3 separate regions of the Homo sapiens genome follow, and all the other regions are reported to be linked to region 1. Evidence: microRNA targets listed by miRTarBase, many of them from high-throughput screens and not tested one by one. Region 1 holds a microRNA gene; each other region holds the end of a gene's coding sequence.

What was found. The annotated mature microRNA hsa-miR-515-5p reads UUCUCCAAAAGAAAGCACUUUCUG and lies in region 1 at 1,144-1,167, shown strand. An mRNA with a match to its seed (bases 2 to 7 or 8) in the 3' UTR can be bound and repressed. Matches are read on the target gene's strand: a 7mer-m8 pairs with bases 2 to 8, a 7mer-A1 pairs with bases 2 to 7 and ends in A, and an 8mer does both.
Region 2: miRTarBase lists ABRAXAS2 as a target of hsa-miR-515-5p. Seed matches in the 3' UTR shown: 7mer-A1 at 1,119-1,125.
Region 3: the mRNA of NKX2-4 is a reported target of hsa-miR-515-5p. Seed matches in the 3' UTR shown: 7mer-A1 at 711-717.

What each region holds. Positions count from the first base shown.
Region 1 is chr19:53,677,873-53,681,130 of GRCh38, forward strand. It overlaps MIR515-1 (microRNA 515-1), which reads left to right and starts at 1,131; the gene lies at 1,131-1,213. It overlaps MIR519E (microRNA 519e), which reads left to right and starts at 2,068; the gene lies at 2,068-2,151. All of the region lies in intron 2 of LOC107985342 (a long non-coding RNA gene), which reads left to right. RefSeq lists an enhancer at 1-323.
Region 2 is chr10:124,834,634-124,837,849 of GRCh38, forward strand. It overlaps ABRAXAS2 (abraxas 2, BRISC complex subunit), which reads left to right. Exons shown (of 9, transcript NM_032182.4): 9 at 1-2,034. The coding sequence ends at 338. Among named protein-coding and RNA genes, the nearest start is that of ABRAXAS2, 34 kb to the left of the region's middle.
Region 3 is chr20:21,393,096-21,396,353 of GRCh38, reverse strand. NKX2-4 (NK2 homeobox 4) reads left to right here. Exons shown (of 2, transcript NM_033176.2): 2 at 1-989. The coding sequence ends at 443. Among named protein-coding and RNA genes, the nearest start is that of NKX2-4, 2.8 kb to the left of the region's middle.

The DNA.
Region 1 (3,258 bases):
CTGCCTGGACTTAGGATCTTTTGGGGAAGTTTGGGATCTGGCAGGGCATCTGCATAATCCATAGAAATCCCTGAGAGTCACTTCCCTTGGCTGACATCTCCATGTTCCTACCCATTACCTTCCAAAGGAGACCCTTAACTGAATTACCAAAGGGGGCTTCCCAGAGCAGGGAAACCCGGTTAACTTTCTATTTCAGGTCAACAGTATACTTGAGATGTACTTGAACTAGAAATGATTGGTTGTTTAGGTGTGGGCATTTGTTTTTCCTAACTTAGTCTCCAAGAAAAAAAATTATTGAGGTTTTACAGCCTAGCCTGTGGTCTATCCTGAAGAATGTTCGTGTGTGTGACAATGTACATTCTTTTTTTCCCCCCAGCTCTGTCAAATCTTACTGAGGAGCTTTTACGGCCTAGCCTGTGGTCTGTCCTGGAGGGTATTTGTGTGTACAACAATGTATATTCTTAAACATTATCTTAGATTCCATTTTGGATGTTCCCATCAGGACTGTGTGTTTCTGTGCTGGAACTCAAGTGAACACTGGCTCAACATCCTTAGAAATCCAGCCCAATTCTCTTGGTTAAAGATAAGGTATGTGTGGTAGGCATTGCTTTTTCTCTTTGGGGACAAAACTCAGGAGGATTGCCCCTTGATGAACAAGGCTAACCTGCTAAGCCTTTGAAGCAAGGAACTGGAGATGGTCCTTTCAGGGGTTTATGTTCTGGATTCCATAAAACATGCAAACAGGGGCAATGAATGCACCTTTTTTATTTTTATTTTTATTTTTTTTTGAGATGGAGTCTTACTCTTGCCAGTCTGGAGTGCAGTGGCACGATCTCGGCTCACTGCAACTTCTGCCTCCTGGTTCAAGTAATTCCCCTGCCTCAGCCTCCCGAGTAGCTGGGACTACAGGTACATGCCACCACAGGCGGCAAATGGTTGTATTTTTAGTAGAGACGGAGTTTCACCATGTTGGCCAGGATGGTCGTGGTCTCTTGACCAGCCTCCCAAAGTGTTGGGATTCCAGGCGTGAGCCACCGCGCCTGGCCAATGAATGCATCTTTATTTTTGTGTTCATTTTAATCTGGTAAGGTAAATTCCAACAAAAAACCCAGAGTTTTGGAGTGAGAAGATCTCATGCAGTCATTCTCCAAAAGAAAGCACTTTCTGTTGTCTGAAAGCAGAGTGCCTTCTTTTGGAGCGTTACTGTTTGAGAAAAACCACGTTGAAGTTGATGCTGATCTTGGTAACACATTTGCAGAGCGTGCTTATCATCAGACTTGCATGATGTTGGGGTTCTGTTTTTGTTTAGTTTTTTTGCAACACAGGGTCTCTTGCCCAGGCTGGAGTGCGGTGACACTTCCAACCTAGACCTCTTGGGCTCAGTTGGTCCCTGCCCCCACCCCCTCCCCCTTTTTTTTCTCTTGAGACAGTCTCTCTCTGTGGCCCAGGCTGGAGTGCAGTGGTATGTTCTCTGCTCACTGCAACCTCTGCCTCCCGAGTAGCTGGTATTACAGGCACATGCCACCACGCCTGGCTAATTTTTGTATTTTTAGCAGAGACGGAGTTTCATCATGATGGCCAGATTAGTCTTGAACTCCTGACCTTAGGTGATCCACCTGCCTCGGCCTCGCAAAGTGCTGGGATTACAGGCATGAGCCACTGTGCCTGGCCCACAACGTATATTCTTAAATATCATCTTAGATTCCATTTTGGTTGCTCCCATCGGGACTGTGTGTCCCTGTGCTGGAACTCAAGTGAACACATGGCTCAAAATCCATTGCTGTTCTCTAGAAATCCAGCCCAATTCTCTTGGTTAAATATAAGGTATGTGTGGTAGGCTTTGCTTTTTCTCTTTGGAGACAATACTCAGGAGGGTTGCCCCTTCGTGAACAAGGCTAACCTGCTGAGCCTTTGAAGCAAGGAACTGGAGATGGTCCTTTTAGGGGTTTATGTTCTGGATTCCAGAAAACATGCAAACAGGGACAATGAATGCATCTTTATTTTTGTGTCCATTTTAACCTGGTAAGGAAAATTCCAACAAAAACCCAGAGTTTTGGAGCGAGAAGATCTCATGCAGTCATTCTCCAAAAGGGAGCACTTTCTGTTTGAAAGAAAACAAAGTGCCTCCTTTTAGAGTGTTACTGTTTGAGAAAAACCACGTTGAAGTTGATGCTGATCTTGGTAACGCATTTGCAGAGCGTGCTTATCATCAGACTTGCATGATGTTGGGGTTCTGTTTTTGTTTAGTTTTTTTGCAACACAGGGTTTCTGTTGCCCGGGCAGGAGTGCGGTGGCGCTTCCAACCTAGACCTCTTAGGCTAGTTGGTCCCCCCTACTTTTTTTGTTGTTTTTGTTCTTGAGACAGAGTCTCACTATGTGGGCCAGGCGGGCAGGCAGTGACACATTCTCTGCTCACTGCAACCTCGGCCTCCCAAGTAGCTGGTATTATAGGCACGTGCCACCACGCCTGGCTAATTTTTGTATTTTTAGCAGAGATGGAGTTTCACCACATTGGCCAGGTTAGTCTTGAACTCCTGACCTCAGGTGATCTGCCCGCCTCTGCTTTCCAAAGTGGTGGGATTACAGGCATGAGCCACCCTGCTCGGACTGCAGGGTGTTTTTTTTTTTTTTTTTAATTATTATTTGTATTTTTTTGTGCTGCCAAAGCAAGCACTTGTGTGTAGGAATTTTGTTTGTTTGTTTGTTTGTTTGTTTGAGATGGAGTCTCATTCTTGTCGCCCAGGCTGGAGTGCAGTGGCATGATCTCGGCTCACTGCAACCTACGCCTTCCGGGTTCAAGCGATTCTCCTGCCTCAGCCTCCTGAGTAGCTGGGATTTCAGGTGCATGCCGCCACCCCGGCTAATTTTTGTCCTTTTGGTAGAATCGGGGTTTTGCCATGTTGGTCCGGCTGGTCTCAAACTCCTGACCTCAACTAATCCACCTGCCTCGGCCTCCCAAACTGCTGGGATTACAGGCATGAGCCACCGCACCCGGTGAGGAGTTATTTTTAATGTGAGCAAACAGTATATTCTTTTTTTTTTTTTTCATAGACAGGGTCTCAACAATATATGATGTATATTTAATCATATAGTCTTATCATGTATATAATGTAGTCATATGTACACCAAACCCTGTTCTACACACGGAGAATACTCTTGTATCACTTTGGGTATTTATTTACTTGTTTCTTTCTGTGTTTTTCTTGTTTGTTTGTTTGTTTTGTTTTGAGACAAGGTCTAGCTTTATCACCCAGGCTG
Region 2 (3,216 bases), not on the chromosome of region 1:
CTCCTCCCCCTTACTCTGATTTTCACCCAAACAATCAAGAAAGTACTTTGAGCCACTCTCGCATGGAAAGGAGTGTCTTTATGCCTCGACCTCAAGCTGTGGGCTCTTCCAATTATGCTTCCACCAGTGCCGGACTGAAGTATCCTGGAAGTGGGGCTGACCTTCCTCCTCCCCAAAGAGCAGCTGGAGACAGTGGTGAGGATTCAGACGACAGTGATTATGAAAATTTGATTGACCCTACAGAGCCTTCTAATAGTGAATACTCACATTCAAAGGATTCTCGACCCATGGCACATCCCGACGAGGACCCCAGGAACACTCAGACCTCCCAGATTTAACTAAACAAAAGAAACTCTCCACCTAGCACTGTTTTTCTTCATTGCTTACTGAGAGGGTTTTTGAGAACTTAATCTGGGGGGAGAACTGCTTTCTCAGATACCTTAACTCCCGAGAAGAGAGTCCTTGTGCACAGAACTTGTGGGAGCCTCCATCCGCTGCTCTTTACCTTTGGATACAGTGTGCAAGTTTCATGACAGAATCATTAAGATAATCAAATTGTCCTAATTCTGGTGCGATTCATGGATATACTGGTAAATTTAGGCAAAGTGAAACTTATCAGCGTAGTTTCTGTTCTTTAAAATAAATTGGAAATTAGAGACTAAGCACAATTAGTCTATAAATGTTCTATAAATCAAAAACTTACCTCTTGCACTATCATGCCTTGAAATTTACTTTTTCAAAGGGAAACAAGTTTAGCAGCAGCCTTCAAAGAACTTCTTTCTATGATGAGCCAAATTCATCTTTGCCAGAAAAGAAATTTTGATAATTCCAAGAAGCCTGATTAGAACAAATCAGATATACCTTCTCTTGTCTGCATGACTTTGTGAGATAAAAGAGAGGGCTTCCAACTTTTTTCTACTAGCTTGATATGTATTATCACTTAAAATGGTTGCCTTTAAAAAAAAAAAGTAGAGATACTAATTACCAGTAAGTAATCATCCAAATAAATACGTCATAAAATAAATTAATTATTTTTTCTTTGATGGATTACAGTGACTACTGTGTTGCACTGGCACATTTATGGTCTCTGTTCTGGAATCTTGGAGGACACACAGCAGTGGAGAACAGAAGGAGTGAGTTTTATAATGAACAGATTCCAGACACGGTAGGTTTAGCTGAGTTCATACAGAGGAGATATAACTCATTTAGATCTTCTGACAAATCCTAGTGTTAGTTTTATCTGTGGAGGAAAGACATTTAATAATAAACTGTTTGGGAATCTTGGTGAATAAAGATTCATTTTCAAGCTGAATAACCATACTTATTTTATTTTAAGTTGCCATTTGGGGAATAATTGCAGTATGTGTAGAGACTCTCTTGGGATGCACTTATATTTTTATTTAATGACTACTTGTTTTCTAGTTTTGCCCACAACGTCTGAAACCACTAAGACATTCAGGAGCATGTTGAGCTTCTGGTTTGGAAACAGCAAGACCCACCATTTATGACAAGGACAGCCATGAGGTTAATACTTGGAGTTTAACTGCCTTCCCTTTGAACTAGTTAAAATCTGTAAGAATAAGGAAGTTGTTGAAGGCTTAAAATCTGGGTTCTGAAAAAGTAGTTTCAGTTTATAGGATACACATTTACTCACTGAGCTCCAGTTCCAATACTAAATTAGACAGTATCATATAGACGGAAAATGAAATGCTAGAACTGCCGTTCTTTGGATCGCCACTCTATGGGGGTCTGTCTTTTAACTACTCTCCTGGTTATGTTGGCCTTACACCACTGCCATTTGATTTAAAACGCTGCAGACCACTTTATCTGCAAATGTGTTCCAGTTGTTATCAGCTACCTACTACGCAGCTTCAGCGCCAGTGTGAATTTATTTTTTTTTAAGTGCCATTACCGTCTCCTCTGTTCAGATTTTGACATTCAGGAAAATATTTTTATTTTGATGCCATACTGAAATCTACAATGTATATCTGACAAAGCAGTTAAATGTGACAATAAAAAACTTATTTAATCATGGTACCATTGTTTTAATGTCTGTCTCAGCACCGGACAAGGCCTTGCCTCAGTGTACTCATTCTGGCAATTCATCATGGACTGAAAAGAGCTTTTTAAAGGGCATTAAAACTCATCTTCATACAAAGTTTTTGTCAGGCTGGTTTCAGGAGACATCCAGGAACACAACTTGCTAAAATGTTTCTGTGATTTTCAGGAGTTTCTGTTTCCAAAATATTTCTGTTGATTTCATGTTACCTACAGAACTAAGTATCAATTGTGTATAAAATTGAATCTTGGAGAGGTCCCCAAAAGGCATCTTCCACAGAGGAACTGATCTTGTTTAAAGTGACTCCTCAGCCTGGATTCCCTAACAGTAGAGATACTGTAGAACTTGCTGCCTGAGAGCATCTTAGGAATTGTGGGATCACTTTAGAACAAGGGTCAGCTGGCTAACAGGTGTATTCTGGATTCTGAGGGAGCCATTCCCGCTGAGTGATGTCTCTCTTCCAAAATGCAAGGGGAGAGTGTTTTCAGCAGGGTTTTAACGTGTGAATTACAGCCTTTTAGGATCCTACTCAACATCTCTAAGAATTTGGAGAAAAGGAGACTGGATTCTTTTTACTTACTTCAAAGCCTGGAAATGCCTGATTACATGTTGTAATTGGTTTTTCTGGAGTAAAATCAAAGCAGAAATCTCATACCCAAATATTCAGGATACGTATTTTTTTAATTGCAGACACAGTGGGGCATTGACCATAACTGCTTTAACAAAAATATTTAAATTGTCTTATAAGCCTATGTTTTAAGGAGATAAAAATAATCTGGGATGATGTAAAATAAGAATACAGTGGAACTAACTAATGGTTATTAACTGTGTTCTGGGTCTGACTTGCCTTGGCTGTAGGTTTCATTTCAGTTACTGAAAGATCTTCCTTTTTTCATTAGGATCTGCTTCATCCTTTCCCATAGCAAACCTGAATTCCACCAGACAGGCAGGAAGCCTGAAGGCAAATGGATTCGTAAATGTGGTGCCAATAAATAATGGAAAATGTTTACTTTTCAACTTTATGACAAATAGATTTTGGAAAAGTTCTGGGATTTAGATCAGCTGTCTTACTTTTATACAGCGATTTTTGTAATGTCCTAAATAAGGCGAGTCAGGACATAGAGTACCTCCAAACTGGGTTACTCTGGGGTTCTTCT
Region 3 (3,258 bases), not on the chromosome of region 1:
TCAAGCAGCAGAAGTACCTGTCGGCGCCCGAGCGCGAGCACCTGGCCAGCATGATCCACCTGACGCCCACGCAGGTCAAGATCTGGTTCCAGAACCACCGGTACAAGATGAAACGGCAGGCCAAGGACAAGGCGGCGCAGCAGCTGCAGCAGGAGGGCGGCCTGGGCCCGCCGCCGCCTCCGCCGCCGTCCCCGCGCCGCGTGGCGGTGCCTGTGCTGGTCAAGGACGGCAAGCCGTGCCAGAACGGCGCCAGCACGCCCACCCCCGGCCAGGCCGGTCCGCAGCCGCCGGCCCCGACGCCAGCACCTGAGCTGGAGGAGCTGTCGCCCAGCCCACCCGCGCTGCACGGCCCGGGGGGCGGCCTGGCGGCCCTGGACGCGGCCGCCGGGGAGTACAGCGGCGGCGTCCTGGGCGCCAACCTGCTCTATGGCAGGACGTGGTGACAGCGAGGGCGCCCCGGGGCTAGGTCCTGGTGCACCCGAAGGGTCTGCAAGAAACTGCTAGAACGGATGGGGGAGGCATGCGAAAACCGACTCGCGCGTGTAAACTGCGATTCAAAACGAACCGGTCTCAGAGAGGAGCAGGCTGTGAACCTCTTGCTGGGGGCGGGGGACAGCGACAGCCCGGAAACCGAGTAGTGTAACATTATGCCACGAGGCTTTGAGGTGGTGATTTTCTCCTCCTAGAAGTTCTTAAATGACGCGAAAAGGTGGAGAAGTTCACACGGCATTCTTAACTACAGCTCTCAAAGTTGGAAACTTTGTTGGCGTTTGTAACTATAAAAATCAACCCAGCTTTAACAATCAGTCCTTTTTGAAGTGGAATTTATCTTGGGAGATTAATTTTCGAAGGGCCCCCTAAGTGCAATTTCATTAATGTTTGATTGAAAGTAAATTGAAGTGTAGCTCAAGGTGGATCATACACATAGCAACATTATTGCAGAGGAATTATTGCCATTTAGGTAATAGAGCAATGGAATCAAAATAAAATACTGATTATATGGATTGATGGAGCTTTTTAAATTTAATGCTGATTTCAAAATGTTTTGATGATTATTTGGCAAGTGAGTGTTTGTATGTTACGCTAAAAGAGGATTTTCCCCCCTAAGATGCAGCTCACCATAAGAAAGGTTGTATACTATTTGTATATGAAATCTGGTCTCCCAACATCAACTGAGAAAATAAATAACCCTATCCTTCTGTAAACATGGTATTTACTCTCTTTGAGGTATTTTCTTGTCTGAATTTGAATACCTTGATAAAGTACTAGAACAAACAAGTAAAATTTCTAAAATTGACATCAATTAATCTATATTCAAAGCATGACAAGAAGAAGAAAGGTGATTTATTGAATTGTAATCAAGATATAAGGAATAAGTAACTACAATATAATTTTTCCACCATATTTAGAACTTAGGAGTTGCACTGGTTTTGTTGGTGTTTTATTGTACAAATAATGTATTTACTCTTTAATATGCCGATTTATATTTCCTATGTTTCTAATGGATATTTAAATATAACTTAAAAGAAACAAGTTCTTTTTTCTAAAAGTCAAGTGGTCATTTCTTTTTCATTAAGTTTATACATGGCTTGATGTGTTTTTAAAATACTAATTGTCATGATGTGACAACACAGCTCAGTTTACTCATAAATGACTGGTAGTGGACTAAAAATACTAAAAGCTGACGAATTTGTGCTTATAAATAATTAATGAAAATTAAAGAAATAACATGGATAAAGCATGATTTGCAAATGATCAAAACAAATAGTTACCGGAGACCCTAAACCTCTTCTACATTTGAGATTTTAGAATTACAGCTTGGGGCTGAAACATTGTGTTTCACTTCATTGTTAGAACATTTTTCTGAATGTGCAACTTGAATTCATAAGAAGGTGTTTTAGAAGTTAAACTTGCACTTTTTCTAGACTCTTGTATAGTAATTTTTTAAAACTCCAGTTTCTTTCACAGAGGGAGAAAAAACACTAAAGAAGCAAGGGAATCACCCTTTATCAAGGGGCCGTAAAAGAATTTTTAGAAAATGAGATCTAATTTTTAAAACATTTTATGTAAGAACAAATAATCTGAGCAGACAAATTTGTAAGAAAACGCTACAGTACACCCACAGGAAATTCTCTCAACTTGGGGTGTTTTTGGCATATTAATGGAAATGACTTTAGAAATGTTAACTAAGCTAGCAAATCTATTATTGATGTGCCAAATTTCAAAATGTTTGTTTATATTAGTTTGATTTCCTCACAATAGTACCATAATTCTGAAATTTTACTTCTAGAAAACGTTCTAAAAGCCCACATGGTTGGCAGTGTTTTTTGTTACAGTCCAATACCTACAAAAACAATAATAGCTTATAGTCCAAGGGCTCCGGGTAACATATTTAAAGAAAATGAGTCTTCATGAACAGTTTATTTCTGGAACAAAATCCTTTAGACTGAAGAAGTGCACTTTCTTTAAGAAATATGTCACATTAAGAAGAAACAACTTTTATATACAATATTTTCTGGAAGTGTATTTTGTGTGGGCATATCTTATTCCTTTCAGCATTCCTTTAAAGAGTAAAAAACCCCAAGCCAGAAATAATTGCTGCAAAGGGCTTAACATTCTATACCCAGAGACTGACTGACTGTATGTGTGCATATCCTGAAATTAGGGAAAGGTTTGATTCTTGAAGCTTAAAATAGAAATGTTTTTACCATAGAATCCCACCTTCTGATTAATGCAAAACGAGCTGTTTTCTTCTTTTTGCAATTAGTGCTTTGCAGATCTTTTATAAAAATACAAATGGCCAGACTAGGTGAAACTCATTAACTGAAGAGGAGGATAAGTGTCTCCACAACTGAGAGGGAGGACTGGCGCAGGGTCTGAGTGGAACAAAGGCCCCTCAAAGTTTGGCAGAGGCCACAGCAAACCTGTTTCAAAAATGCTTACTCAGCAGATGTGACCTTTTCCTAAATGTTTTTGGGTTTTACAACAATCTAACTTACCTTTTCCAATTGAGGCACGGAAACCAAAAGCCAGAGTCAAAGTTGCAGAGAGGAACGGAGGGATTGCAGGTACTTTTCTGTAATCTGTGTTGGGATGTATATTGAAGTGCTGTGTGTGCGAGTGTGTGCAGTTTTGAAGGACACAAGAAGGGTGTTTTGTATATGGAAGGATGGGGGTGTAACCCAGTTGTCTTCTATTTAAGTCTTTGCCTAGAACTAAAACCTAATGGTCAGAACAAGTAGTCAGACTTCTATCAAC